4 separate regions of the Homo sapiens genome follow, and regions 1, 2 and 3 are each reported to be linked to region 4. The links are microRNA targets in miRTarBase. Many come from high-throughput screens and were not tested one by one. Region 4 holds a microRNA gene; each other region holds the end of a gene's coding sequence.
Evidence for each region. The annotated mature microRNA hsa-miR-222-3p reads AGCUACAUCUGGCUACUGGGU and lies in region 4 at 3,366-3,386, shown strand. An mRNA with a match to its seed (bases 2 to 7 or 8) in the 3' UTR can be bound and repressed. Matches are read on the target gene's strand: a 7mer-m8 pairs with bases 2 to 8, a 7mer-A1 pairs with bases 2 to 7 and ends in A, and an 8mer does both.

Region 1 (8,071 bases), not on the chromosome of region 4:
CACTGGGGAAGCATCTGTTAATTGGTAGAAGGGGCGTGTGAGGCGTCTCCGTGGATGTGCACTGTGTCATCTGTCATTCTTTCTGTAGTGCCTTAAGGGATTGAATGTTTCAAAGGTGCCAGGTCACAAGAGAAGGTCCTCAATGATGGGGGCAGCACTGTGGGCAGTGAGGAATAATCAGTAACATTTATTTTAACAACTTCCAGGCATATTGTAGGCTGAGCCAGGGCTGACCACGGTGTCAGCAGCCATGAAGCATCGCAGGTTCTCCCCACTTTCCTTTCAGGACAGCCTGCCAGCCTCCTGGCTGCTGGCAGAGGACGTGGGCTCCGGGGTGACAAAGGGGATTTCAGTCACAGTAACAGGAGCAGTAGCCAGAGGGTCAGCATTTGTTTGAACATCTGAGCCCCCAGCCCCGAAGTGGGACGCAAAGTGGGCCAGGAGATGCCTGCACACACAGTGGGTGGTGTGGTGGCGGAGGGGCCTGAGCTTGAGGAGCGGACTTTCAGCTGCTCAGGAGGCCAAGACAGGGGGGTCACTTGAAGTGCACCTGCCTGGCCTTTGGTACGGAGGGCAACAGTGTCTTGATTACACTGATCAGTAAGCAAACGTCCCTTCGTGCTGGAGAAAGAGGCCATCGCCATCTCCCCAGGCTGCGCTCTGTACAAACAGCCCAACAAGAGCATGTGGATATAACACAAAGAAATGCAAGGGGCCCATGGAGAGTGATTCCCAATACCATGTGGTCGGTTAACTGAGAATAGAAGTAGAAGGCAGAGCTGGAAAGAAAGAAATTCAATCAACTAACCCCAGGGACGAGGAGCCAGGTCTAGAGAATGTGACTGGCTGGCCCAGGGACAGGCAGCCGTCAGAGGCAGAGTTCGTCTGAGTGGGGCCCACGCCACCTCCCTCGCAGCATTGAGAGCGCACAGCACACTTGCAGGTACAAGCCTTTGCTTGTGCTTAAGGGACAGCACTCTATTCGCTATCACAGGGAGTCCAGCCTCTGGGCAAAACTCACCTGGAAAAGCACTGCCAATAGTTGAGATGATCCATCGTAGTGGGATCCAAAGCGCTTCCCTCACCCACTCTATTTCAAAATCTATCAGAGCAATATGCCTCCTACAACGAAAGAAAGAAGCGAAAAGAACAGTAAAGCAATTTCTTAACCATTCCCTCTTAGCCAAATTCAGGAAGTCAACATCACTTTAATTTTTTCAGTCCAAAACTACGTGGAGTCCCTACTCAGTGCCAAGAAAACGTATATTGAAATCTCTTGTTTCAACAGGATGATGACTCTCTCAATTACCAACTTCTCTAACAGTTTGGAAATGTAAGGCATAGTAAAATAGATGAATATATCTTTACAAAGAGCCCGACGACATAAAATAACTCCATGGATGCTTCTGGGAAGTCCAGGATCTGGCATCTCTCATAAACAGACACACTGATATTATGATGGATGCGCACGGCATTTCAAGTCACTTTAATACCTTTCAAACGAGAGAAAGCAGAGAGCAGGAATCTGGGACATCCTCCAGGATTTAAATGCTCTGGGCTTGAATATGTTGCCAACTCAGCATTGCTCTATTGTGTTAAGCCATGGCAAACGTGACCTAGAGGAAGTGTCCGCCTTTAAACAGTGACAACTCACCCAAAACCCAAAGAAGTAAATATACAGGAGTTTTAAAATAATACAAAAACTATTTTTATTATTTTTAAAGCCAGCACGGTGGCTTTTGGCATCACTATCCATTTCTAATACAAAACTGGATTAAATAAATATCATCCAATGTATAAATAGATCATGAAACAATTGTGAAGATAAAAAGAGAATTCTTCTGTAATTAAAAAAAATTAACTTTAAAAATTTTCTTTAGTGGTGAATCAAGAACAAATCCCTATGTCACTTGAGAATTTGTCAATTATGATACAAATATTGATAGAATACGTCTTCATGCTGTAAAGTGTTACACATAAAAGATTAAATAGAAAAATCTCTTCTGACTGCCTGTTGCTCCTGCCATTCATACTAATCTTCATTTTTTCTTAGTTGTTAGTCATCCATATAAAGAACTGCCCCGATGCCTGTGTAGGGAGGGTGAGTGTGAGGGTGTGTGGGTGAGTGTGAGGGTGAGTGTGTGGGTGAGTGTGTGAGGGTGAGGGTGAGCTATGTGCTCATCCGTGCATGGGGGTCTGAGGAGGGGAATCCGTTCGGAGAGGGCCAGCCACCAAACAGGACATGTTGTGGCAAGCCACACCATGACAAAGAACATGTCTCTGCTAGGAATATGTGGGCATCTGGCCCACGAAAAGCTCTGTGGTTCCCACTTTCTCCACAATGAAGAAGATGCCAGCTCAGTGGCCTTTGGCGTACGATCTTTTCATTAGAATATGGGAAAGGTGTAGAGGCCCCAAGTACAGATACGACATTAAATTGGGTGGTGCGTGTAGGCGCTTTTGAAATTTCATTCTAAAAAATCCAAAGTGCCTAAGTTACGTGAACACAGATTAAGTGACACAAAAAGAACGCTTCCTTCAGAAGTATCCGCCGCATAATCTCATCTCTGCCTCACTTACTTCCTATGCAGTAGGTCTTGGAAAAGGGATACATTCGCAACGATCAATCCTTGGATTAACTTTTTTTAGTCAGGGAAGGGCACGGTATTAATTCTGAAATAAGCTTCAGAAAAAAATGTAAGAAGCAGGCATGAGATAGCCTTAATATACACTAGAAAGCAGTTCTATATATCTTACCTATTTCCTTTAAAAATCTTATGTACATAAATCTTGAAATTGATTTACATGCCAAACTATTTTATCTTGAATATTTCCAAACATAAATCTGTGTGATGGTCATTTCATGTTAAAATGTGTATCTTAATGAGTTACAAATATTCTTCTAAAATGAGGAAAACCCACAGCAAGACAAGAAATCCACTTCTACTTCTAAAAATTGTGTAGCTGTGCTAACACATGCGTCTCTTGTAATAAATGTGATATGAGTTCAAAGGAAGACACAGAACACTAGCTATAATTTCAAAGATCAAGTTTCCTTAAAATATTACAACAGGGGAGTAGAAAATATGCACGAAGGAAACATCCCCTAGTTAAGTGCCAGACAAGCACTGATGTTCATGTCCCACCAGCAGAACACTGTCAGGAAGAGGAGAGTGGCATTTGATGAGCCTCCCACTGACCTGGCTGCAAGCTGTCAGATGCCATGTCATAGCATTTCCTCTATTTAGATACTTTCTAAGTGCCTCAAGTTTTTCAAAGGGGAAAAAGTAGAGCTTGATGGGGGTGGGGTAGCATTTCAATCTGCATGTTTGAAAACATGTCTTCATTTTCATCTATTGCCATTCTATGGAAACGCAGCCGCTTGGGCATTATCTAGCAGGTGGGACTCCACACATGCTACATGCCTCCTGCTTCCTCAGTACCTGCACCCCACCTTCACGTTTGGTATCTTTGCAAAGGCAATTCATTCTTTCAGCTTCAGTGCTTCATGGTTACTTGAGCACACAAGCAGGATCAAAACACTTAGGAACTTTCAAAAGGTTCCTCAATGACTGGGTGCCGTTGAATAAAGCAGCAAATGAAAGGGAACAGGAACAGTTCTGACACATGCACAGGGCACTGTGCTGACGCCCACGGCTCGCTGTCGCGGAGCCATGCCCTGATTTTGAAAGTCTGAAGCCTTTCCAGTGGACACTGCAGGGGTAAACGCCTCTGAACTTCACAGAGGTAAAGGAAAATACCACTAAAGTTTTCTCTTAAAAATATCTGAACTTGAAATTAATTTACATGCCAAACTGTTTTATCTTAAATATTTTCAAACGAAAAAAATTAATCACATTTCCTAACTTCATCTTTTATTTATAGTTATTCCAAAGCAGATATGCTATGATGAGATAGTTCTAAAAATACAGTTCTTTATCCTCAAAACCCTGGTTATACATGAGGCCTAGAAATCTCTTTTCTAGAATTTTTAAAACAACCAGTAAAATATAAAGATCAACCTGTACCCCACAAAGATTCAAGTAAAATTATGTCTTTTCAAAACCTTATATTTTCAAGGAATGTTCTGCAAAAAAGCAGCTTTTATAATTAGGAAGTAAATCGAAATAATACATAAAATGTCTTGTGTTTGCTAATAAATTGAGAAAAGACACAAAATTGAATTATTGATATTTTCTTTTTCTTTAACCAAAATAAAAGTAGGCTCTAGATTCACCTGTTAAGGCCTTAAACAGTCAATTAACCAATACAATTCACCAAACTAGCTTTCTATACAATTAGGAATTAAACAACCCCTTTTAGAGATGTCCTGAGATGACATTTAATGCTAAAATCAAAATAAATAACCCAGCAAGAACAAAAGTTTAAAATTCCAATAATTTCCACTTTGGGGATATTTTTTCACCAAAATTAATCAACATTTCTAAAATATTTCAATACAAAATTATAAAATAAAAAGTGCATTAAAAGCAGAACCTTTAAAACTCTAGCACAATTACAGTTATTCTGCATATGCGGCTACAGCCAGGTTTACACACTGACATTCAAGGAAGGAAACCTCCGGATTGGTAAGAAGTCCAGTATCACAAGCATAAGTCAAATAAGGCTTTTCTTTTTCTTAAAAAAATATACAATACACAAAGCAGTTTGGAAAAGAAGTAATATTATTTAACAATTTTCTGACTTAAATATCTTCACATAACAAAAGTTTTCATATCACCGTCAATATTACTTATATACATATGCCAAAAGTGAACAACAACAACAAAAAAATCAAAAGATGCCCTTTCAAAATAACAGTAAAATGTCTATTTCTTTAGGAATCTGAAATGAGCTCCTCTCTTAATATACAAAGTCCATACAATATTTATAATAAAACTACTCTCTTCTGAAACCAAGGAGGCAACGAGAGAAAATAAAGGCAATTATTTTTCAGGAAAAAAAAATAAAACCCAGCTTTATATGACAATGAAAAAGATATCCATTTATGAATAAAATGAATACAATACTGATCTGAAGTGCTCGTGGGGAGGTGAAACTGACGCTCTTTCTGCAATTAGGACTAGTACTTATATTTACAAAATATACTGTTCAGCCACACAGAGGCCCATATATCTATGTACATATGTATTTATATATAGAACATATAAATAATTTCAAAGGAAAAATTAACATGAAGTAAAGAACCTTCCATCTTTGGAATGCTGTAGGAATGGCGTGCACGCACTCTGCCCAGCACGGGTGGGATTTGGTTTGGGACATGTTTTATGTGGCACCATTGACGATACTAAAGAATTCCCTGAAATCAAAAATACATCTGTTTATGCACGAAGAGAAAGTCATGGGGTTTTTACGGATTCGTGGCCTTAAGCTACAGATATGCTTCTTATTTGCTGGGGTGGACAGGGCCACCGTTGCTTGCTCCTTGCAGACGGTTCTGTGGTTTCCTACCTGCGATGTATGGCTTGTGCTTCTGCAATTATGTAACCCTGGACCTGAACACAGATTGATGCGGTAAGTGTGTCGCCAGCCCGTGTGGACAGCTGAATCCTTATTGGTGGGTCAGGTTTACTCGAGTCCCCATGTTGACGCCCCAGATACTGCATTCTTGTAACTAATGATTAAACATTTGTCATGGAGAGAATTGGTCCAGCCATCTCTCAAGGTATCAGTTATATTAACTTATGGTAGACTGAAAAGAGTCCATTTTGACTAATTTTCAAAATGCACAGAGAAAAGAGTGGAAAAAACTTCCCTGTGTGTTGTAACACTTTTTTTTCTGAACTTCATGCCTCAATCTTACGCTTGCTTTGTAAGCTATGCTTCTTATAACCAGAAACATGAAGGAAAATCTGACATACTTTTTCAATGTTAGCGTTTTTGTCTTTGCTAATACAAAGAAATCACACTACAATGATAGTAAGACCCAGTTAATTGCTTCGTGAACTAGACACACTAGCCACGGAGGAGACTGAGGAGGAAACTGCCTACAGTAGTACCTGAGTTCAGTGATTTGTAGACAAAAGAGAACAATGCGGTGACACTTTTCCTAGTTTTTTTTTCCTATGAGTCTCTGAAAGACAATGATTCTTTAGATAATTTTATAGATAAAAAACTATTGTAGCATTTTTAACACTTGAAGCTTTAAAACGGAGATTCCAAGTGCTTTGCTCTTCACAAAACGTAACTTCAGAAACATTCTTAAAGGTGTACTTCCAACTCGCATCAGAAGACGTGGGTGAGGGCCTGCCACTCGCCGGCGGCCTCCTGCACCACCTCCTCCAGGTGGAGGGTCCGGCTCAGCTCCTCCCCGTCCTGCTCCGGGTGACCTGCAGACTCCTGCAGAGCTCCTGTTATGCAGACAAAGAAAACACAAGCAGCCTCAGACCTTCCAGAGCACAAAATGATTCCTATTTAAATAAAGACTTTCTGGTAGAAAGAGACAAGGAATTTCTAAAGTAATTTGCTTTTCATTCCAGTGAAAAAAGAGTAATTTGAGCTGCAGGTGAAACACCTCTGCCGGCAGGACAGTAGTTACTGTTAGGAGTATGAACGCACACACAGCACTGGTGATATGAGTGCACTCCTATGACAGCTACATTAACACAGCATCAGGAATGAGCAATAACCAACACACATGATTTCCATAATAAAAAGGAAAGCAGGAAGCACTACAGTGTAGACGTTAAAGAGAAAAAATTACCCCTTTTTCCTTCCTCAAAAACTCCCCACAATATAGTGTTCTGCCCTCGGGTTCCCTACACTGAAAGCCGTCGAGCTCCCCTCACAAAGTACCGCACCTCAAACAACCAAAGAACACCTGCAAGCCTCACAGAGCACACCACCACCTCCAACACCAAATCACAAATCTCACAGATCACACCACCTCCAACACCAAATCACAAATCTCAGAGATCACACCACCTCCAACAACAAATCACAAACCTCACAGATCACACCACCTCCAACAACCAAATCACAAATCTCACAGATCACACCACCTCCAACACCAAATCACAAATCTCACAGATCACACCACCACCTCCAACACCAAATCACAAATCTCACAGATCACATCACCACCCCTAACACCAAATCACAAATCTCACAGAGCACACCACCTCCAACAACAAATCACAAACCTCACAGATCACACCACCTCCAACAACCAAATCACAAATCTCACAGATCACACCACCTCCAACAACAAATCACAAATGTCACAGATCACACCACCTCCAACAACAAAACAAAAATCTCACAGATCACATCACCACCCCTAACACCAAATCACAAATAACACATCTCACGAATCACATCACCTCCAACAACCAAATAACACATCTCACGAATCACATCACCTCCAACAACCAAATAACACATCTCACGAATCACATCACCTCCAACAACCAAATAACACATCTCACGAATCACATCACCTCCAACAACCAAATAACACATCTCACGAATCACATCACCTCCAACAACCAAATAACACATCTCACGAATCACATCACCTCCAACAACCAAATAACACATTTCACGAATCACATCACCTCCAACAACCAAACAAACCACAGATCTCACAGAGCATACCACCTCGAACAATCAAATCACACCCGCAAAATGCATGGAGCACACCAAGGGGTCTACTCAGACTTTAACATTTCTAGTTCCTTGCATAGCTACTGCCACCCTCTGAAACCTAGTCTAGGCCATCTATTATCATTCCTTCCTCAGAGATGGATGCCACTGCTAGATTCTGTGTAGGAAACAAAGGTGAACAAGGGACAGACAAGCAGTAGGATCACACCCCAATATCCATACTCTGAAGGGCATGAACGTTAGCGAATCAAGAGAGAAACCAAGGCCCACGTGTTGTCTGTGCCAGGTCAACAGGATGCAGACAGGAGCAGTTGGTGCAGATTCTGTTTGCTCTGTGCCCCTGAGCACCGAGACAGCACCTGAACTGCATGCTGCAGGAAAAGGGGCTTCCAGACATGATGTGAAGACAGACAGAGATGCTATTCTGGGCCTCTGACTGGCCAGG
Region 2 (8,071 bases), not on the chromosome of region 4:
CATGTCTCACCCTTCCTTCCCATCGTGGCCTGAACTAGTTTTTCAGGTTAACTTTGGAATGCCCTTGGCTGAGAGAAGGGACCCAAATAGTTGGGGGGCCTTAGGATTTTATTTTGGGTTTACAGGTTCAACAATCAAAACTCAAGTCAGAGTTATGCTTACTTGGACAGGGCTTCCATTATACACAGGGTGATCATTTGTCCCAATTTCCACTGTGGTACAGGCCTAATCATGAATAGCTCCCCATTTCACTATCAAAAGTTTGAGTCAACAGGAATGTGCACCTCCAGATTTTGGGAAACCACACCACAAGCAACTGTGTCTCTGATGTACACCCCTTTCTGGCCCTCACTGCCAAGGCCAGAACCTGCCTCTGAGATTTACCATAGTCTTTTCGTTCCTTATCAAAGAATTTCAATTAAAAGCATTTATGAGGCCAGGCGTGGCAGCACATGCCTGTAATCCCAGCACTTTGGGAGGCTGAGGCAGGCAGATCACTTGAGGTCAGGAGTTTGAGACCAGCCTTGCCAACATGGAGAAACCCTGTATCTACTAAAAATACAAAAATTAGCTGGGCATGGTGGTGCATGCATGAAATCCCAGTTACTTGGGAGGCTGAGGCAGAAGAATTGCTTGAACACCGGAGGCAGAGGTTGCAGTAAGCTGAGATCACGCCGCTGCACTCCAGCCTGGGCAACAGAGTAAGACTCTGTCTCAACAACAACAAAAAGCATTTATGAGTTGTTTCCTCAGATATTTGCCCTTGATAAAAATGAAGACAAGTGCTTTGGAAATAAAAAGGCAATGTGATTTTTAAAATTCCAGTTAAAATTTTTCATGGTTTAAGATCAAAATAGCTTCTTTAGAACATATGTACCAAGGCTTTGTGTGGCTAGTTGTTGGATTTCTAGTTTTCTTTGGGGCATTAACACAGAATCTGAAAAACTATTTGTTTGGAAAAGTTTAATTTCACTGAGATCTAATTTATAGAGATTTTCCTTATTTATTTATTTTTTATTTATTTATTTTTGAGACGAAGTCTTGCTCTTGTCCCCCAGGCTGGAGTACAATGGCGTGATCTAGGCTCACTGCAACCTACCCCTCCCGGGTTCAAGCAATTCTTCTGCCTCAGCCTCCCGAGTTGCTGGGATTACAGGCGCCTGCCACCACGCCCGGCTAATTTTTGTATTTTTAGTAGAGATGGGGTTTCACCATGTTGGCCAGGCTGGTTTCAAACTCCTGACCTCAGGTGATCTGCCTGCATTGGTCTCTCAAAGTGTTGGGATTACAGCCGTGAGCCACCACACCCAGCCTTCCTTATTATTTAATACCTCTTTGCTTAAAAGGAATAACATTACAAAACCAAATCAACTAGTTATTAAGGTAAAAGATTTTCAAGATAAAAGAAACTAAAAGTGGCTAGAAATTAAATTGATATTCCACAAAAGCTTTATACTATTGGGTGACTATTTGAAAATTGCATTTCGTTGAGCCTCTTCACTAATTAAAAATGTGAAATACAAGTTTAGTTTGAAATAATAGTTCTGGGCTGAGAATTACAGAAGAAAAAAATCTCAAGGTAGGGTAAATAAATTACAGCATGTTTTAGTCAAGTAAAAACTATACTTACAGGTTAACAAAACCAGCCATAGTAGTCATGGCTAAGCACTAGCAGTCTAATCCTAGGGAACTCAGCTGTCTGATCCTATGCCTGGCTGGGATGAACAATTGACCACCTCGGTTTAGACATCATACATAATAGAAAATTGGATCCAAAAGCCAGAATGGAGGGTAGGTTCTTGTTATCAGTTTTAGGGTTCTAGGGAATATGCAAATGTTTACTTTTTTCTAATGAGTACACTGGGCTGGGGTATGGTTTGGTTTAATAGAACACTGTAAAAAGGAATGAAACTGTCATGACAGACCAGAAACAAGAAAATCTATCTAAATGCAGATGCAACAGAGAAACTAGAAAATATCCAGCTGCCCTACATCAGCCGTTTTCCTTCTAAAACTGAGTAAAAATATTCCTGTTAATTCTACTACTTTATTTTTCATGATAAAATGTCTGCAAAAGGTGACTGAACCTTTTGGACAAAATGAAGTATTTCTGGTCACTGTGACTGTAGCTACAGTTGGGACACGGCACACAAACTGCCAAGAGTGAACAAAATGGCAGGGCAGAAAAATACAGGCTGGCCAGAGGCGGTGGCTCACGTCTGTAATCCCAACCCTTTGGGAGGCCAAGGGGGGCGGATCACTTGAGCCTGGGAGTTCGAGACCAGCCTGTCCAACATGGTGAGACCCCATCTCTATAAAAAATACAAAAAACTAGCCAGGTGTAGTGGCGCACATCTGTAGTCCCAGCTACTTGGAAGCCTGTGGTAGGACTGCCTGAGCCCGGGAGAGCAAGGCTGCAGTGAGGCAAGATGGCACCACTGCACTCCAGCCTGGGTGACACTGTCACACACACACACACACAAATTGCAGGTGATCTAGACATATCTTCAGATTACTCAATGGCCTTTAGAGTATCATAAACTACTAAATTAGCTATTTCAATGAAATCCTTAGTATCTTAATTGCAGAAAGGTAGTGGTCCAACCCTGAATAGATCTGCCATGGTAACCAATCACAAAAAAATGAGGCCAAGTCTTGAACATGGACCAAATGATCACTACTTTTGATGTAGATTATAGGTGGCAGCTAATGGGTGAATAATTTCACTTAGAAAGCCCTACAAGCAGGCACTGCAGCAGTGTGGGAAAAGGTGGAAATTTAGCAAACCTAAGATATGGGTTAAAGTCTGGTCTTATCACTTAACAGCAGTTATGTGACCTTGGGTTCATTATTTAACACTTGAGTCTGTTATCAACTCTAAAAATAGGAAGGTTAAGATTCCCTGACAGTTGAAAAATAAAAGTGTTCTGTGCACTGTAAGATACTTTAATAACTAAATGAGTAAAACTACCATTTGAACATTCAGAAACTTGTATTATAAAAAGGTTAGAAAGTGTGAGGAGCTTTAAAATACATTCCTTCCAAAAATTAAGAATATTTGCTTTAATAATCAGCAATAAACCCCTTGCAGAGTAATATGCATGGACGAAATACCTAGCATCAACTACATTTGATAGCAGATTGTAAGTGCTCACCAAATAGCTACATGTTCTATACCTCCCAGTCTTGTTTGCAGTGAGGCTGTAGGTGGAAGGCATGTCTCTTTCAGGTCTGGCCCTTAAAAATATCCTACACCATCTGCTAGTCTGCTCGCTCTGATTTGGCGATGTTGGAGACCATGCGTCCAGATGGCATAGCTAAAAATGGAGGATTGCCCAGTTGACACTGGACATTTCATGAGCATAAATTTTATTACGCCACACCGACTTAATGTTTAATTGCAGCATAACCTACTCTATCATGATACTCTATATGCAAGGAATTGAGATAGGGTTGGAAGTACACATGCATAGATTCATGACAAGGTTCTTACCCTCTTGAGAAAGAGGAGTTTTAGGATTCTAACCCCAAACTTATAGTCCATTCATTCCAGTAAAAAAATGTGTTGTTTCATCAGTGTATTTCTCATCAACAAATATTATGTGCTGTTAAGCATTATACTAGGTACATGTATTTCTGAAGCTCAAATATATGAATGAGGTGGATCTTTATCAGGAGCTTCATATGTCACTGACATTACAGTACTTCCTGAGCTCTCAGGAATCCATTATTTGTAAATGTTCAAAAAAACCTCAACCAGTCATTTGATTTCATATAAATCAAATAATTTAATCAATATCCACCCACTCTAATTTACATCCAGCTTGAAAAACACTGTATTTAGAAAAAGGATTAGAGTGAGCAATTTCATTATCCTTATCTGCATGGACCAAGTCTTTGGGAATGCTTTTTCTACTAGATAATAATACACGCTCTTGAGGAGAGAAAATCCTACACTGCTTTGCAGGTCAACATTTTGATTGTAGAAAACAAAATCTAGCAAACAATCATCTGTTACATAGTACTTCACAAAGGAAATAATGCTAAGACTTATAAATGGAAGCCTAGCCACGTTACTGTTAAAAAACAAATGTGGCCTGGAGCAGACCCATCAGTCCATGTTTTATGAACAGACTGAATGTGTCCGTAGCATCCACCATTGTTTATTACAATGTAGGTTTAATAGTTGGCCTTCCACTCAGCTCAGATTCCTAATAGCAGGCAGCGTGCTTATCTGTCTTCATATCACCAAGGATTGGAAAGCAGTAGTAAGCCTTGACATACAGCAGGTACTTAATAAATGCTTACCAAAAGACTGAAAAAGGACAAAAATAGGGAAAAGTATATTTACTAGACTTCCATAATCCATACTTACTTTAAATTCAATCTAGAAATAACATGACTCATATTAGGCAATATACTTTGAAGATCTGTACAACATAGTAATCACAGCAGGGTCTTGCTAACTCACAAATTTAGCATACATGCTGCAAAAACCTCTCTCCTGGAGTCCCAAGGGCTTTCAAATGTTCCACCAGGGGCAGTCAAGACTAGATTCACGGTGCTCTCTTCATCATGCGCACAAAATGTGTTTTCCCATAACACCATATTATCACAAGTCTATGAACAATTCTGGTTAGCTAAGGTAGGCAGTATAGAACTCTTTACAAATAACAGTATTTCAATTATGCCATGTAAGTAAACAATTTGCTGTGAACTGTCCTGTGTATCTAATCATTTAATACATTGCTTCTATAAGAAAATACTATTTGTTAAATTTTAGTCATAATTTCATTGTTTCTCATCATAGACTGCAGATGCAAACATTTAATGGTGAACAAAATGTTTATCTCAATTTTTCTTTGACATTTTTATGCTTTGAAAATTCAGAATGGATAAAAACAAATGAAGTACAAAATATTTCAGATTTACATAGTGATAAACAAGAAAGCACTTATCAGGAGGACTTACAAATGGAAGTACACTCTAGAACCATCATCTATCATGGCTAAATGTGAGATTAGCACAGCTGTATTATTTGTACATTGCAAACACCTAGAAAGAGATGGGAAACAAAATCCCAGGAGTTTTGTGTGTGGAGTCCTGGGTTTTCCAACAGACATCATTCCAGCATTCTGAGATTAGGGTGATTGGGGATCATTCTGGAGTTGGAATGTTCAACAAAAGTGATGTTGTTAGGTAAAATGTACAACTTCTGGATCTATGCAGACATTGAAGGTGCAATGAGTCTGGCTTTTACTCTGCTGTTTCTTTCACACTTTAGATTTTAAAAGTACGTCTCAAGGAATCTTTCTTTCCAATTTGAGAACTCAACTCACTTTAAAATGGAAACACGCAACAAAAAACAGATGCTGCTTTCTAGAACTCCATTGTCATGAAATATAATATTTGCTAAAATAAGAGATTTACTTTAAAAATTAGAGTGCTTATTTCTTGCAAAGTACACCATGGAAAACCCTCGGGGGAAAATTGTTGCCAAATGTATCCATTAACTGTATTTAAAATTTCTGATTGCCTTTTTGACCATGTTATTGCTAAATAGCAAAACAAACAAAAACAAAAACAACAAAAATCCTATATCCCAGCTAGATTTCTTCCTTTAGCATATGGTAGTGTCTTCGATATTTTGTACAATGTGTAGTATTTTAAATAGTAAAGAAGTGACCATGCATCAAGCTGAAGGTAGTGACTAATGCTCAAGAGCTAGCTCTTTAAAACTATAAATATGGTTACTATGAGTATATCCACTAATGTCTCATAAGACACTCTTAATGATATCCTATCAGCCCTGAAAAAATGGCTGCTGCTATGCAACTCCAAAGAGTTACATAGTTACGTATAGTGAATGGACAACACAAATAGGTGGGTTTTTTTTGTTTTTTAATAATATGAATTTAAAATAGCCACAAACAGGGTGAGTGCATGTAAGCGGCTGAACTGCCAGTACAGGGGAAGGTAAATGGGCCTAAACTATGATACCTAGCAAGGGTTGGATCTGTGCAGGCTTCTATGTACAGAGACAAGCAGGGTTAGGCACTTAAAGCTTTTTGATGAAAATCCTGGGAAAGAGCTGAGCCTACATTTATTATTATTACTATCAAAACAACAACATACTTTTCATGAAGAAACATGCAATCAGAAACATTACAGAGACTGAAGAGAGCTTAAGAGTTTTCTGAAAATGAAATGACATGTTTTTCCAGAGTATCATCTCAATTATAAAATTTGATGGTTTTATATTATCATATTTCTTCAGTGGTAAATACCTCATTAAAAAATTATTAAAAAATTATTGACAATACAAAGCCCTAGTTAGTATACAGATATTACTATACTGGTACCCATCTTGTAAGGAAAATATCACCATCTAGATATCTTAAATATCTTCTATCATCCAATATCTTAAACCAATTTCTTAAATTGTTTTATTCAAAGGTACTTTTGTCGTCTTGCCCCTATTCTTCTATCATCAATAGTCCTTTTAAAAATTATAATATTCTACATATACAAAATAAAAATCTAATGTCATAAAAATCTCAAAAATGTAATGTTAGTAGTGTTGATTATCTAAAGAACTCAGCTTCATGGAATACCTTTCAATATTTATTGCCCAGATGTATTAAAGAGAATTCTTAAATGTAATGCATCAATGGTCCTAATACATCTGTAAACAGAATACCACTAAAAAAATTTTACTGGCATGAAATACTATACTTATGGTTGTGTGAAACTTTTAAATCTTAAAGCCTCTTAACATAATCATGTGTATCTATGTACAAAACATACATAAATTTCACTTTATTTAAAACATATGAAAGAGGTAATTTCAAACCACACTAAACATAATAAATATAGAACTCGCTTTGTTAAAAATCTACAGTATACATTCAAGTAAAGGCTAAACTTCCAATGCCAACTATATTTGAGACAAAATTAAACATTTACAATAATCAGTTTCCTAAAAGTGCTATTTTTAATACCTATAAGAGGAAACTCAGTCTAGTGCTTTTGTTTCCATCCAAACATCTATACATTCCTTTATTCACAGAACCAGATGCTTCTGTTACTAAAAATACATATCCAAAGCTTTTATATCCTTTTAAATAGATTTAAGATTTCAACTCTTTGGGGGAAGACAGGGAAGTCCAAACAAACAACTCAGACCATCTTAAGTTATTAGAGATAACTGACTTTATGACACACCCTGTTTCAACTTAGATGTGAAACTTGATGAACACATTAATGAAAAAAATTCCAGTCCACATGTCTAAGGTAAGTCATCTTTTTCTACATGAGAATTTGTGTAGCTCAAGGAGCATCCACTATAGCAACCTTCCTGTGATCCAGGTCTTGATGCCACACTCCATTTTTGATTTGTACATTCTCCTCCAACCTGATTTGGTTTAATTTCTTCAGCAGTTATATTCAGTACATTGATTGAACTGTTGGGAAAAGAAAGGCAGATCTTAGTGACTATCCTCTCCTTCTTTTGTACTTTAACCTCATAATGTGGCACTCTTCAAAAAAAATAAGTTCCTTTTAATTCTAAAAATCTAGGCCAAAAATATAATTTAAAATTTTACTTGGAAAAAAAAAACGGCTGGGAGCAGTAGCTCACACTTGTAATCCTAGCACTTTGGGAGGCTGAGGCAGCCGAACTGCTTGAGCCCAGGAATTCAGGACTAGCCTGAGTAACATGGTGAAACCCTGTCTCTACAAAAAATTAGCTGGGAGTAGTAGTGCATGCCTAGTTTAATCATTTGTACAAGGGATTCTGATGACCAAATTACTATAAATTTATTTACCAATACTTATAGTAATTCGGTCATCAGAATCCCTGTACAAATGATCAAACTAAGTTTTTTAGGTAACTTACGCACAAGTCTCCTTGCCTGGAATCTAAGGCACAGCCTTTATATAAAATTCCATTCTACAGTGAAGGAACAATGAGGATGTTGTAGAAATTAGCTACAAATACTCCTAATTATTTTGTTGCAATATTAATATAAACCGAGATCCAAAATGCTTCAGGAGCAAGAGAACCAAGTTT
Region 3 (7,892 bases), not on the chromosome of region 4:
TAAAATACTAAATTTTAAAATAATAATTTAAAATCGGTAACATTACAAGCAATGATCAAGATATACCAGCTCAGTGGCACTATATTCCAAGATGTCTGCTAAACTTAAAAAAAAAAATTCACTGATCAATAAAAAGGGTTAGGATCTGTCCTCACCATGATTTTGTTCTCACCTCTTCGGTGGCACTTTTGTTTCTTCTGAATTCTTCTCTTGCCCAATCTTTCAGGTATTTGCGATCAGAATCATTTGGAACTTGCCGAATTGTTTGCAAAATCCTTCTGTAGAGGAGAAGAACTTGTTGCCTTCTTACGAACTGTAAAAGGGAGGAGTAAATAGCAATTACTACTGCACAATCGCCAGCCTGGAAAGTTCTACTTCAGCAAACCAAGCTGTAACCAGAGTACTTCTCGTTGGTCAATTTTGAAAAAGGCAAAGAAAAACTTTTTTTTTTCTTTTTTTGGCCAGATGCAGTGGCTCAGGCCTGTAATCCCAGCACTTTGGGAGGCCAAGATGGGAGGATCACTTGAGCCCAGGAGGTCTAAGCTGAGGTAAGCCTTCATTGCGCTACTGCACTCAGCCTGGGCGAGAGTGAGGCCCTGTCTCAAAAAGATGTTTTAAAGAAAGCATCACGAGGTTCATCTGATCTTTTTGCTTACTGCTCTGTCAAACCTAAGAACCATTAAAAAATCAGGAGCTGCCTACCGGGCTGAAAAGGGCTGCCGGTCTCCTAGAAGTTGTTATTACAACGACAGCACTTTTTCTAAATTAACAGTTGTTCAAATCTTTGGTAATCTCATTTGCTGTTTGCCACAGCTCAGTGCAATAGACTTTTACCGTGGGCACTGGGCAGCTGAGGCACCGGGACTCAGGGAAATCAAGCGCCTGACGCTGTCTCACGCGATCGCACCAAACCAAGGAAGCAGCCAGTGCCTCCCGTCAGGCCCCGCGGAGCGAAGCACCGCCCCGCAGGCATCGGGCCAATCTCAGAGGGCGCGCACGCCGCATCAGGACCCCGGAACCCGCCCCGTTGGGGATAGGGACAGATGGAGAATCCAGCTCAGACCCAGGTAAGCTGCTTTGGAAGGCAGAGAACCGCCGGTACCTGCTTTAACGTTAGCGTCGCTGGGGGTAAGCGGGAAGCAGCCATGTCCACCAGAGGTCCGCCGGAGCCTCAGCGCGCAGGAGCGGAAGTGGGGTTCGACCAAGGGGTGTGGCGAGCCCGGTTTCCTAGGAGACGGCCCGCGGGTTGCTCTCGGACTGAGAGCGCGAGGCTTCGGGACTGAGCCCTAGCTGCTGCGCTGGCCGAAGTTTTCTCGTCGGTAAAATAGGATAACAGTGCACCATAGGGTCGTTTTGATAAAGAAGAAAGGTAGGGCACTTAACACAGTTCCTGGTAAAGAGAGTTCAAATGAAAGTGAAGGAGGCCGGGCGCGGTGGCTCTCACCTGCAGTCCCAAGCACTCTGGGAGGCCTGTAAGGTGCCTGTAATCCCAGCTCCTCGGGATGCTGAGGCAGGAGAATCGCTTGAACCCGAGAAGTGAAGGTTGCAGTGATCCGAGATCGCACCACTGCACTCCATCCTGGGCGACAGAGCGAGACCCTGTCTCGAAAAAAAAGTTAAGGTTTTTTTGGGGGAAAGAGGTGAAAACGTATTTAAATGTTCTTTCGAGCCTTTAAAAATGTGTATAGTTGAAAATACTAAAATTGAAAGTGTTAATTTCTTTTACAGTTTGTGTTGGTTTTTTCTCTTTCTCGTTTTTGTCCTGTTCTTTTGTAGCGCAAAGGTTTTCCGGGAGCGGTGGCCTTCATGATCATTTGAAACAAAGCTTTGAATGGCTCACCCACTTCAGTCTTAAGCACTTTTCATCACTAATAACGAGGAGCCTAACATCCCTAAGCCTCAGGCTTTTGCTTTTATTTCCTTATAGTTGTTTTATCTTTCCCACAATACACATGCCTTTGGGTTAAATCACTAGAAGTGGAGTTAGCGAATCTTTGCCATATTAATTTTCCAAGTGGTGTTGTATCGAATTAAAATAGAACGAAAAATGTTCAATTACTAGTTTACTGGGGACTTGCTTGCCTCGCCTGTTAGCATCCTGGGGCTCCCTATTCCTAGCTGTGTTCTGGCTATTTCCCCTCTCCTGGCCTATTACCTCCCCTGTAAAGTGAAATATAGCATCTACCTCAGTTGTGTATCTCTAATGTACTGAGAACAGGTCCTGGCACATGTAAGAACTCTAATCATTAGCTCTTTTGAACTTTACCAGGCATTGTATGAATGATGCTAACTGCATGATCATATTATCAATAATATATGCCAAATTTTGTCTAATACATTAGCTGTAATAGTTAATTGCTAACTTTTTAAAAGGAGTGAAGTTAAATACCCCTCGCCATTTTTAGTTATACTGTTTTTGTGAATTGTTCATGACTTGGGTCCGTTTATGATGAGGACATTTATATGGGCTCTATATTTTTTGTCATTTCTTTATACATACAGAAACTTTATACAATCATGTATTTTTGTGCCTTTTGAGGCTTTTCATTTCCCATTCAGGCCTTTGTAATTCGTTTTTTAAAAACTTTAATTTTTAAAATATTTACTCCATCTAGAATTTACTTTGGTTTACAGCATCACGTGGATCTAAGTTCTTTTCTAGATGTTAAGCTGTATCAATACCATTGATTACATAACTCATTCCTTTTTCGGGGCTTTATGATGGATGCCTTTTTGACTGTATGATAAATTCTTTTAGGGTCTGAGTAATCTGTCCAGAATTGTTTCATTTAGGGTTAAGTTTTTACTTTTTGTTTTATATGTTTTTATTATCTGGCAGGACTCTAGTTTCTTGTAAAAAATCCATTAGTACTGTTCTCTATAATCTTTAGAAATGTTTTGTATCATTTCCCTCCAAATCATCTTGTGATCTTGGTTGGAATTTTGAAGTAGTGTTGAATCTATACATTAATATGTGAGAAAGACATTTTTACATTATTTCTTCTTCCCATCAAGAAACACTCAGGCCAGGTGCGGTGGCTCATGCCTATAATCCCAACACTTTGGGATACCGAGGTGGATCACCTGAGGTCAGGAGTTCGAGACCAGCCTGGCCAACATGGTGAAACCTCGTCTCTACTAAAATACAAAAAATTAGCCGGGCCTGGTGGCGCACGCCTGTGGTCCCAGCTACTTGGGAGGCTCAGGCAGGAGAATCGCTTGAACCTGGGAGACGGAGGTTGCAGTGAGCCGAGATTGCGCCATTGCACTCCAGCCTGGGCAACAAGAGCAAAGCTCTATTTAAAAAAAAAAAAAAAAAAAAAAAAGGGCTCACTCTTGCTAGACACTGGTAATGCTGTCGTGAGTCACATATGCTCCTTGCTCAAAGACTCATGCTTTGGGCAGGAAAACCTCTAAGTTCAATATAGTGCTAACAAAGAATGCTGCAGTTCATACTGTGGGAAATTATTCTTCCTGGAGGGCTTGTCTGAGCTAGGTATTTGTCAGAAACGCAGAATCACTAAGAGGATTCCAGACAACACATGGAAACACTGGCAGGAATGCTGGGAGAGGAGGGACAGGAGAGTCAAGCAAGAGCCTCACAGGTCACATGAAGAAGCTTGAATATTACCCTCTTCACAAGGGAGAGCTTTGAAGGGATTTTCAGCTACAGAACTTTTAGAAAGATCTTGGATGTTGTGAATAGGATGAAGTGAAGCAAGCAAAGAGAAGTTACTGGCCTGGCCAGGATACCATTGAAGTAGTCCCTGCTAGAGATTAAAAGAGTCCCAGTCACAGTGCAGTAGGGGGAGGGGGAGGGATGGGACAGGATATCCAGAAGCCTGACTGGACAAGATGATTAATTAATTTGATTGGGGTATGGATAGAGATGGAGAAGGAAGTAAAGCAGATGTATAGGTTAAGTCCCAAGTTTGTAAACAGGGTGGCTGTTGGAGTGGTCATCCCAGATGGGGAATGTTGAAGGAATGGGTTTGGAATAGGGGAATTAGAACACAGTGACATCCAGCAGATGTCTGAATATAATTAAGAATACCAAAGAGTAGATTTCCTGGACCCCTGGATGGAGAATTTTACAGTCCTTTTGCTTCAGTGATGGTGGAGGCCACGGGAGTGGTGAAGAAGTTATCCAAAGTGAGATTTTATTGTTGTTGTTGAGATAGAGTCTTGCTCTGTTGCCCAGGCTGGAGTGCAGTGGCACAATCTCAGTTCACTGCAACCTCCACCTCCTGGTTCAAGCAGTTCTCCTGCCTCAGCCTCCCAAGTAGCTTGGGATTACAGGTGCGCGTCACCACACCCAGCTAATTTTCTGTATTTTTAGTAGAGATGGGGTTTCACCATATGGGCCAGCCTGGTCTCAAACTAACTCCTAACCTTAAGTGATCCACCCACCTTGGCCTCCCAAAGTGCTGGGATTATAGGCGTGAGCCACTGCACCCAGCCCCAAAGTGAGATTTTTAAGACAGCATGGAGGACTTTTGTGTTCTGCTGTCCATTCCTTAAATATCAGAACTTACTTACTTACCTATTTGGCCAAGGCCTGGGGGGTTGGGGGAGGGGGGGGTGGGCAGGATAGCACAAATGTCAACTATCAACATGGCAGATTAATTGATCACTACTCCTGCAAGCCCCTGTTGGCAGCACAAGTTGAAAATGGCACTCTTGGGTTCCTGCTTCCTGGAATTCCTACTGTCCATGATCTCATGAGCTAACCCAGGGCCAAGGGAATCACTCTGGGCACACCAGTTTGAGGTCTAAGAAAGATGGAGCTTCCAAAGGCAGATGTAATAGACTGCAGCATTGTCATAATATTGGTGTCTTTCCCTCCCAGACTCAACCCTACTGGAAGATTAAACTCCCTGCCCCATAGAGGGCTTTAGCCAATGAAATGTGAGTGGGATGCAACATCATCATTTATGGAGGATAATTAATTTTTATAAGCCTCCTTATAAGGCTACACCAACTCATCCTTTTCATTCTGCTGCAAAGCCAGCATATTATAGCTCAGCCTACCATGGACATAAATGCAAATGATAACCTTTGTAGTAAGAGCAACATGGAAGTAGGAGGGGATCATGTTAGCACAGCATCAACTAGTAACAGCTGACTGACTGATCCAGCAGAGAAGATCAGTCCCCTAGCATACCTTTTACAATCCTGTCATCTTCCATTAAGAAGAGTCACAAATTACATCAACAACAGTGGTATATGTTTTAATAGTTTTCAGAATATAAGCTGCATAGCTTTTTAGAATAAAAAATGATATAACTTCAGGTACATGCTTTGGGACACTTGGTTAAACAAGGAATCTGTGTCTTTGATGACCACCTCAAAAGGGTCGCAGACTTCACAGTGTAACTTGGAAACAGACAAGGAGATAGATGATTACATCATGACATACTGCCTACAAAAGAACATTCTGACAGAACATTAAGTAGAACAGAGCACACAGTTTCAAGTATTCAGCACTGCTTTCTGGCCAAGTAAAAACTGCCTAAAGATCAGTTTCTTTCGACTGGAAAAAATAGATGGAGCTGCTGAGTTCTGGACACAGCGTTTCTTTCCCAGAATGAGACTGGCTCAGTCCAGCTTGAAAGCAGTGTGAGGAATCACTCTTCCCCTTGACTGTTAAGAAAAAAAAAAATGAACTAAACAAATAAATTACTACAACAACAGGGACCATGGCACTGAATGAAATAAAGGGGCAATCACCTTCCCATCATTGCATAGTCTCCCGAAGCAGCAAGTGTGAAAGAGGATACTGAAAAGCCACTTCATTTTTACACAGCCCAAGGATCGTTTTTATAGATGACCTGGGCACCTATAATGTCCAGTTGCTTTATGAGAACACACACACACCACATTCTTCCTACCCTCTAAGAGAAGGTAGTTCCTTTCACAATAAGAAAACACACCCTCATACTCTCCAGAAACGAGCTGTCTTGGCCACTTGACAGCTTTTGGGCACACACTATGGGCTTGGCAAGGCAGAGCTTAGAACAGGGTCAAAAGGGCAGCTCCCTTTAGTCCTTTATACAAAGGACTGTCAGAGTCCCATGCTCCTGGCAGCATCTCCTCAAGGCACAGGTGCCCAGATCCCCTGCAAAAGAAAACAGGCAGCTGGGCTCCAACGGTGGGGTATGACCTCCTCCCAGGCCAGGGCTTCCAAGGCAGGGAAGAAGGATAACTCTTCTCTAGTTACGAGTTCAGGCACCTGCTGCTGCTTCCAGGTTTGGTATAAAAACCTCAGCCCAGGCAAAGCCGGGAGCCAGAGAGCATTCTGTAGGCTGTAAGATCACGTTGTAAAATAAAAATATTACAATAAAATTTTTTGTAGTTGTCCAAAAGGGAGCACCTGGGTAAGCAATGTGACCTTCTGACCACAGTTAAGTCTCACTTTGGACTCTTCTTTCTGTTCTATGGGTGGTCAGAGGCTGTCACCAACTCAAACCACTGTCTGAGGGCATCGCTGAGTGTCTCAGGAAGTGCGTTTACATCTCGAAGAATGATATAGTATGGGAATGGGAACTCTTCCATGTAGGATCGGATTTCAGGCATCTCTCCAGGTCCTTTAAATATCGGTACTTTAATGTCCAAGATAGAATCCTGTCAACAAAAGACATTTTGAAATGGGGAGGCAGCGATTAAACCAGCATCCTTAGCTAGCTCTTCTGTGATCTCTTTTGCTAACTTTTACATCTCCTGTGTCTTATTCCTGCATATGAACCTACCTTTTATTACTAAGTAAAAGAGAATTTTCAGAACTCTACTAAGAAGGAGGTAGATGTCTTTCTGAGTGCCCCTTCCAGGAGGATGGACACTGAAAAAAAGGAAAAGGGATAGACAGGAAAATCTGCTTTCCCTACAGTGGTGTCTCCCCATCATCCACTTGGAATCATTCACACTAAATCTTTACCTTCCTATCAAGGCCTTAATGTGACCCACAGAGACAATGCTTCCCTGGAACAGAACTGCCCTATAGGCATATTTCACTAAGATGATTGATGCTTCTTGCTGTGAGGAGCTACTGAGACATAAGTTAAGTGTGGCAACACCTAATCTCCATTTCAAAGTGGTCAGTACCCATTATCAAGGCTGCAATACCTGCACTGACTTTGCATAGAGGGAAATGATGACCCACAGAGGATGGTCATTCTGAATCTTGGCTCTCCCACTCATTACCTATAACCTCTATGTGTTTCAGTTCCTTCAGTGTAAAGTGGGAATAATGATCCCTACCTCACTGGCTTATTGCAAAGATTAATAGAGAAAATACTTACAAGTGCCTACAATGGTACTTGACAGAATACTATGAATGCTGGGAGTTCTCAGTATGACTGAGTGATCCAGGCCATATTTCAGATTGAACAGGTTGAAGGGAATCCCCACTTTACCTCCAGAAAAGGTGGCTTTTAGTAGTCACTCACCCGTGAACTGGGATTGTCCAATACAACAAAGATGACAAAGATATTTGCATTCCGGGCAGCCTGAACTGCTGCCAGGACTCTTTCTTTGCCCTCAAGGAAAAGGCCTCGCCCATCAGAGACTACCAGGAGGAGTTGTGCAGTTTCTGTAGACCATATAAGACGAAGCAAGGGAATAAAATGAACAGCCATTTTTAATAACTCACAACTACCCAAAGTAGGACAAATTAGTGTAGGCTTTCTCTGTACTATTAAAGCTAAACAGACCTCTAAAGCTGATGAATTCTGGGCACAAACCTAAGGGACCTCTGATGAGATCTATCCCTTAGAATGCTTGAGTCAGAGACAAGGCATAATAAGGGATACTAAGTAAGCTTCTGTCAGTATAGAAGAATTTCTCAATAGTGCTTCAAGAAATGTTAAGTTCTGCTCAACTTCAAATTGTAGAGC
Region 4 (8,071 bases):
CAAACACCTGTGATACCATCACCATAATCAAGGTAATGGATGTATTCAACATCTCTCAAAGTTTCATTGTATCCCTTTGGTTTTGTGTCTGTGTTTGTGTATATGTTAAGAATCACTTAACATGAGATATACACTGTGGGTGGCAGTTTTTGTTCACTTCTAAAGTAAACTCTGACTTCATTAGAATAGTGGACTGGCTTATGCTCTGTCAAATCCCTAAACATGATTGTGATAGAATTTGACTCTATTCCTATTTAGTTACAGAAAACTACTGGTGCATGAACAAAAATATGTGAAATATCATGGATGGGGTTTAGGGGGACATGTGGGGCCAGACTTTGTGAGGTTATAGAAAATCATGGAACTGGAAAGCATCTGGAAGTTCTTTTACTCAAAGAAGCATAGATTCTTTCACATTTGTGTTAAAAACAGTGAATTAGACAATTTTGACTTGGTAAAGTTAGCATTCTGGCAATGCTGTGAAATCGTTCATCTCTCTTCATTTACTTCCACATATAGTCCCTAGGGTCAAAATTTCTTTCTAAAAATGATAATTTCTAAAGTCAGAGATGCTTTTTGGGGGCAAAATAGAATTGTCCAGGTAATCAGTTTAAAAGACAGAGTAATTCTACTCTTCCTTCAGTAGAATGACGCACGAAGCAGCATTTCTTTCATTTCCAGTAGAACTTTGATGCGAATGTGACTTTTATCTCTCTCAGTGTAGCTTTAAACATCAATGGGTTTCTTTACTTCTTGGTTTGGTGTATAGGTTGCCCCTGTTCTAACCGTGTGGAGTGTAAGCTCTTCAAATTCTAGGTTAACATTTCAAGAAATGGTCTTTATCCCAGTTCAAAGCAGGCCTTCCAACAGCAGGTGGCAGGCTTAACTTTTAATAGTCTTTCCCTCCCTTTAAACTCTTTCTCATACCTCAAATAAATGGTCTTTAGCCAGAATGTATGGGAGTTTTTGTTTATTATTATTTTTGTTTTGTTTGTTTGCAGTGTGACTAGGACTTGAGCAGAAGTACCTTGGTTACAGTCCTATCACTCACCCTTGGGGCTTAGTTGTCATCTTAATTGTTAGATAACAGAATTATATAACTCAACATTTCTAGTTTGAACCTATTTCTTTTCTTTTCCTTTTATTTTTAAACTGAAAATGCATTATTGGTTAATATTCTATGGTGTTATATATTCTACATATTCTATTCTTTGTGTTTTTAATAAACTTAAAACTGTATAGTATTGTTTAGTGGTTGACACTAATTTACAGAATAACCTTTAATAAAATTTTATTTACAGATTTTCCTATTTGTATTACCTAGATTAAATTTAAAACAAGGGGCAAAAGACCACCTTAACTTTAGTACTAAGATGTGGAGAATAGATACCTTTGAGAATTAAAAATTTACCTTTTCTCATCTAAATGTAAAGATTTATAAAAGATAATCTTTTGTATTTTGGCATTGAAAGTGACCACACTAAACCCTTGCCTCACTTTAATTGTTAGTCTTATTCATAAAAGTAGAGTTATGAACAGTTAGTTTTAGTGGTTTATGAAATGTAAGTTTGTGTGTTCTACAAATGCTTTATTTTACATTGAGGGTAAGACTTAGCCAAACCTATATAAACGGTCTTTTCCCCCACTTCAGTATGTATGCTCTGGTTTGTAGGCAGTGCCAAAATATACTTCATAGATGGGATTGGCCTTAACTTATTTAAAGAGAAAAAAAAGCAAGCAATCAAAAAAACCCCTGCTTCACCTTGTAAATTCCACCCTTATCCTCCCCCACCAAGAGCTAACCACACTGGTGAAGCACTATTACTATAATTTGGCAAGTGAGTTGCCTCTTAAAATTAGACATCTGTGATTAAATAGTTAAATCATTCCCTAGATATGTATATATTTAGAGCTCCCAGAAAGCTGGTTATCTTTTCTTATAGCTAACACATTTTTAAAAAGCCACTTTTCTCTTGGTGATAAATATGTGTGTGTCATACTGTGGTATAGCTGCATGTCCGATCAAATGGTACTAGTTTCCAATTGACAGTAGCTTTATTAAATCTTTTCTAAGTGATAGCTGAAGCATTTTAAATTCACAGCAAAGGATTCTAAGACGTGTACTTGGAGAAAAGTTGCATAGTCATTTACCTTCTAGAATAATCCTAAAAGTAGGAAACAATAATTGGCCATGTGGTCATGTGCTAATAAAAGAACACCTTGTCCAAGATACCAGGCTTTTTCCTGTTTCAGTGCTTTTTGTTCTGACTCTTGCCTCTCCCTGTGGTGTCCTTTCCCACCCCAGGTATGTACATGATTCTTCTCCTCCTACTTCAGGAATCCACTCAAATGCCAGGCCCTCAGTGAGGCTTTTCCTAGCCACCTTATCGAAAATAGCATTCCTCTTAACTGTTTCATTACTCTATGAAATGACCGTCCATATCTATGGAGGTTTTTTTCAGTCTTTTTCTACCCTTTCCTTAAATCTTAGACTTAAACTTCCGTGAGTGCAAGGATTTTGTTCAGTGTTGCATTCCCAGTGCCTGGAATAAAGCACGCAGAAGTATTTCAGTAAGGTACTGAAAGGTACTTATTGAAGGTACTCAGTAAGTATTTCTGGGGTGGATAAATGAATAGCAAAGAGAACACCAATCCTGTGACTTATTTTGTTACCTTCATTGTATCATGGGAGGAAAGCTTGGAACTGACATGCTAGTGAGCACCTGCTTTGAATATTTATTATAATATGCATTTTCTGTAATTTTCTTTGGTGTTTGAGATATTTGGTAAAATAACTGTATTATCCTCAGTTCGTAACACGAAAGAATTTTTTAACTGCAATTTACTTTACATATGTGCATCATTGCTAGATTACCCAAGTTAAAGTGACAGGAAGCAACAAAAATGCTCCAAGCCACAATAAAATGGTAGATTGGTTTTTTGTTTGCTTGTTTGTTTTTCTCTTGTGTATATTTCCATTTTACTGCAAAACATACCAAATAATTGATTGTAGATTTTGTCACAAGGAATCATGTATGCTGTAGAAGTATAGAGATTTTCCACTTTTTTTGTTTGCTGCTGGATCTCCAGCACCTAAGAAAATATGTGGCACTTTATTTAATGTCACTCAGTCAGTATCTGTTGGATAAGTAAATAAATCCAGAGGTTGTTTAAAATTACGTACATGGGAATATTGTCAAAATGTCAATTCATGATCCAAAGAAAATGTGCAATTGAAATCTGATATCTTCTTTTTTCTTCCACAGAGCCCCTCCCCAGAAGGCAAAGGATCACCCAGCTGCTGGAAGGTGTAGGTACCCTCAATGGCTCAGTAGCCAGTGTAGATCCTGTCTTTCGTAATCAGCAGCTACATCTGGCTACTGGGTCTCTGATGGCATCTTCTAGCTTCTGCTTCAGTGTCCTGAGAGAGATTATTGGGCAGTCTTTAATAATGAAAACTTTACCTTGAATTACACACACACACACACACACACACACACACACACACACACACTCACACACACACTCACACACACACAAAGAGAGAGAGAGAGAGAGAGAGAGAGAGACAGAGAGAGAGGAGAGAGTCAAGTTCTAGGGTGTTAAGTCCAACATTATCAGCTGGGGCTTGGGAACCTTCAAGGTTTTATGAATGATGAGGTCTATTTGCTTTCAATACTACAAGGGGGAGGAATCTGGATATTTATCCATGTTTTAGCTCTTACCTGTTTTTGTTTTACCTCTTTTTTTCTCTTTCCCCCCTATGAAAGGTATCATTTGGATAGATCAATCTATTCATCTATCTACCTACCTACCTATCTACCCCTACCCATCCACCCATTTATCCATCCACCCATCCATCCATCCATCCACCCACCTGCCCACGTACCTACCAGTTTATCTATCCGACCTTCCTTCCATCCAGCTTTTTCATCTCTTGACTTTTAGATGGCATTTTCAACATGATGTCATGATTAAATGATGACAACTTGATGATATGATGGTTTAAGGAAATTTTGTTGGTAGTAGGTAAGTCCCAGCATTTCTGACTGTTGGTTTTCTTTTCCTTGTGGTAGAAAAGACAAATGCCAATTTTGAAATCTTGAATGCAGTAGGCAGTTGTGTTGAAATAGTATGTGAGAATTACTTGCAAGCTGAACATCCAGGTCTGGGGCATGAACCTGGCATACAATGTAGATTTCTGTGTTCGTTAGGCAACAGCTACATTGTCTGCTGGGTTTCAGGCTACCTGGAAACATGTTCTCCATTGGCTGTCTCACCAATGCTACCCCTATAATGTTTCTGAATAACTGTTTTCCAGGAGGTATAAACCAGTGGAGTTTATCATTGAATAGAGTGCAGAGAAAGGACCGCAAGAAAGCTGATCACCTCAGCAATGAATGATTTCAATACGATTTCACCCAAATGGTCTCACACACCAGCCTAGTAAACCAGAGATAAGGTGTAATGTCATCCTTCCTTCCTTCTCCCTGCCTCAACTGTCAAAGATTGACAACTTACATGTTGTTTACTTTTTGGCTTCTATTTCTGTTCATAATTATTATCAGAAGGCATAGCACCCACAAGCCTAATCATACTGCCTTACAACCTTATTCCTCTTCATTTTGTCTTCTCACTTACCTGCAGAAACCCAGTTTATTTTTGTTCTCCCTTTACCACACCAGCCTTGTAACTGTTATGAATGACCCTCAATCTCACTGGAATCTGAATCACTCAGGAATTCAAGCAAACTGGATGTTTTAACCACTGTTCAGCTTTCTTATGGAATGACAGAGAACTTGTAAAGATAAAACACCAGTTTGCAGGAAGAAAGGAAGAGAATGGAAATTGCTTCTGGAAAATACTAGTTTTACAATATGTTTTGTTTGTCTGCTCTCTTAAATAAACTTAATCCTATAAACATTTTTTAAGAACTAGCCATTAAGACTGTTAAGTTCTCAATTATAAAGGAATAAAATGTTTTAAGGAGGATTTATTTGCCCTTGCTTATATGAACTGCATATTTTTAGTAGGAAATCATGTAATTTAAATTAGTATTGGTTAACAGATTTAACGTAGAAAATGGACATATAAAGAATACAAGGATAAATGTCTACATGTAATAATGGATGGTAGTGATATAATGCATTTTTGTCATCCCATGCTGAATTCAGTAAAAATAAAGCTAATGACTTGGAGCTTTTAAAAGATTGTACTGTTCTCTGTGTGTGTCTTTTGGCTTCCTACTCACCAATCAGTTCTATTATCTATTCTGTACCTGAGCCACTGGCTTTTGTGACCCGGGAAGAGAAAGTAATTCCACTTAAGACGTTTGACAGGCTTTTAAGAGAAATAAGTGGCTCTGTGCAACATGGTTATGTTTAATAAATCATAATTACCAAAGGGACAGTTTCTCTTCTCCCATGTCCACTCATACTTTTTTTTTTTTTTTTTTAAAGAGATGAGTTCTCATTCTGTCATTCAGGCTGGAGTGCACTGGTACAGAACTCTTGGGCTCAAGTGATCCTCTCGCCTCAGCCTCCAAAAGTGCTGGGATTACAGGCTTGAACCACCATGCCCAGTCCTCCACTCCTTACTTCTGATGTTCTTTGAGTCCCTTTGCCTATCATTAAATGAGAAGGTGTTGACAGTGGTGCCAGGTGTGAAGAACTCCCTAATTCCATTGATAAGTTTACATTTCCCTCTCAGGTACAAGTATTGGGTTGATCCTCAAAGCAAGATTGAATGTTGTGATAATATAATAAGAAAAAGACATATTTGGTCTTCACCCTCAGTTCCTGGAACAGAGCTGCTAAAACTGTCATAATTTTCTAACTAATAGAGGTGATAGCATCTTTTGTTAAAGTATTTGGTCTTAGTCCCCTGTTCCTGACACAAGAGCTTCTAAGATCCTTGGACTCTCTGGAGTGATGAGTGTCTTTCTGTATGCTAACAAGATAATGAGATGACTTGGCTTAGCGGGGAGTAGAGGTGGTGGCAAGTTAGCTTCAGGATGAAGGCTGGTTGTCAGAAAGACCAAGGTATGATTAGAGGGTTGGAGCTTTCAACATTCAATCCCACCCCTGACCTCTGACAACTGAGTTGATCACTGTCTTAGTCCATTCATGCTGGTATAACAAAGTACCCGCGACTGGGTAATTTATAATGAACAGTAATTTATTTTCTTATAGTCCTAGAAGCTGGGAAGTCCAAGGCCAAGGCCTTGGCACTCAGTGTTGGGTGAGGGCCTTCTTACTGCTTCTTCATATGATGATGAACGGGCAAAAAGAAGATGAATGCTGTGTCTTCACATAGGAGAAGAGAAAGAACACACTCCGTCAAGCCCCTTTTAAAGAGCCTAATCCCATCAGTGAGGCCTCTTCCCTTGTAACCTAATCACCTCTTAAAGCCTGTACCTCTTAATACTATCACACTGATGACTAAGGTTCAACATATGAACTTCGGAGGACACAATCAGACCATAGTGTCTGGCTCCTGGCCCCCCAAATTTATGTTCTTACGTATGAAATATATTCATTCCATCTCAGTAGCCCCAGAGATCTTAACTTGTTCCAGCATCAACTCAAAAGTCTAGAATCTCATGTAAATCAGATATGAGTGAGACTGAAGGTAAGGTTCATTCTGAGACAAATTGCTTTTGTGCTGTGAACCTATAAGGTCAAACAAGTTATATACTTCCAAAATACAATGGTGGAACAACCATAGGATAGACATTTCCATTCCAAAACAAAGCAATAGGAAAGAAAGAAGGAATAACAGGTCCTAAGTAAGTGCTAAAACCAACAAGGTAAACAACATTAAATCTTAAGGCTTGAGAATAATCTAGACACACTGGAGTGGAGGTTAAGCCCCCAAGGCCATAGGGGGCCTCAGCCCCATGGTTTTGTTGGGCATATTCTATACAGCACCTCGCAAGTTGGAGTTGGGTGTCTGCAGCTCTCCCAGGCTAGGATCACACTCCAGTGGCTCTGCAGTACTGGAGTCTCAGAGGCAGTCCCAATCTTATGGCTACCCTGGGCATTGTCCCACTGGGGAGTCTGGTGGCACTATCCCTGTCTCAGTTCTCTGTGTTGGTCCTGAGGCTCTCCAAGTCATCCATTGAAACCTACGTGGAATTAGTCATTCCTCCACAGCTCTTGCGCTCTGTGTGTCTGCAGAGTTATAATGTGGACACTGGGGGCACTAGCCACACCTAGGCATAACCACAGCTGAGGTGGGTGAGGAGTGCTACACTGGAGTAAATGGAGCAGAGATGAGGCATCACTGGGCAGTGAACGCAGAGGTTCTTCGGTTACCCTAAGCCCCTAGTTTTAGTTATGTGCCCCAGGCCTTGGCACTCCGGGCTTGTCATGAGAAAGGCAGCACCAATAGTCTCTGATATGCCTTCAGGGTGTTTTTTGTTTTGTTTTGTTTTGTTTTGAGACAAAGTCTCACTCTGTCACCCAGGCTGGAGTGCAGCGGGACGATCTCAGCTCACTGCAACCTCCACCTCCCAGGTTCAAGTGGTTCTCCCACCTCACCCTCTCCAGCAGCTGGGATTACAGGTGTGCACCACCACCCAGCTAATTTTTGTATTTTTAGTAGCGATGGGGTTTCACCGTGTTCAGGGTCACTTTTCATTGTCTTGATGAACAGTGTATGACTTTCTTCTATCCATACTAATCTCCTTGCAAATGGTCACTTCTTCACACCCCTGGTGTTTTCTTCCAAATGCTTTTGCACTTGGCCAGGCTGAGAATGTTCCAAACCTTTAAATTCTGCTTCCCCTTTGATTTTATTATTTATTATTATTTGAGACAGGTTCTTGCTGTGTTGCCCAGGCTGGAGTGCAGTGGTGAGATTTTAGCCCTCTGCAGCCTTGACCACCCAGGCTTAAGTGATCCTCCCACCTCAGCTTCCCGAGTAGCTGGGAGTACAGGCATGTGCCACCACACCTGGCTAATTTTTTGTATTTTTGGTAGAGACAGGGTTTCACCATGTTGCCCAGGCTGGTCTCAAACTCCTGAGCTCAATAGATCCACCCACCCTTGGCCTCACAAAGTGCTGGAAT

Region 1: miRTarBase lists ZNF236 as a target of hsa-miR-222-3p. Seed matches in the 3' UTR shown: 8mer at 3,416-3,423.
Region 2: the mRNA of SSX2IP is a reported target of hsa-miR-222-3p. The part of its 3' UTR that is shown has no 7-base or 8-base seed match.
Region 3: miRTarBase lists MDN1 as a target of hsa-miR-222-3p. The part of its 3' UTR that is shown has no 7-base or 8-base seed match.

What each region holds. Positions count from the first base shown.
Region 1 is chr18:76,966,515-76,974,585 of GRCh38, reverse strand. ZNF236 (zinc finger protein 236) reads right to left here. Exons shown (of 31, transcript NM_001306089.2): 31 at 1,685-6,371. The coding sequence ends at 6,247. Among named protein-coding and RNA genes, the nearest start is that of MBP-AS1, 9.9 kb to the left of the region's middle. RefSeq lists an enhancer at 7,413-8,071.
Region 2 is chr1:84,640,145-84,648,215 of GRCh38, forward strand. It overlaps SSX2IP (SSX family member 2 interacting protein), which reads right to left. Exons shown (of 14, transcript NM_001166293.2): 14 at 3,562-7,463. The coding sequence ends at 7,289. Among named protein-coding and RNA genes, the nearest start is that of LINC01555, 9.2 kb to the left of the region's middle.
Region 3 is chr6:89,637,570-89,645,461 of GRCh38, forward strand. MDN1 (midasin AAA ATPase 1) reads right to left here. Exons shown (of 102, transcript NM_014611.3): 101 at 7,446-7,588; 102 at 4,929-6,624. The coding sequence ends at 6,436. It overlaps LYRM2 (LYR motif containing 2), which reads right to left and starts at 1,178. Exons shown (of 3, transcript NM_020466.5): 1 at 1,103-1,178; 2 at 173-313. The coding sequence starts at 1,147. It overlaps MDN1-AS1 (MDN1 antisense RNA 1), which reads left to right and starts at 963. Exons shown (of 4, transcript NR_111915.1): 1 at 963-1,067. RefSeq lists enhancers at 1-1,125, 478-707, 928-977.
Region 4 is chrX:45,742,351-45,750,421 of GRCh38, reverse strand. It overlaps MIR222 (microRNA 222), which reads left to right and starts at 3,298; the gene lies at 3,298-3,407. It overlaps MIR222HG (miR222/221 cluster host gene), which reads left to right. Exons shown (of 2, transcript NR_170290.1): 2 at 1-5,208. It overlaps MIR221 (microRNA 221), which reads left to right and starts at 4,156; the gene lies at 4,156-4,265.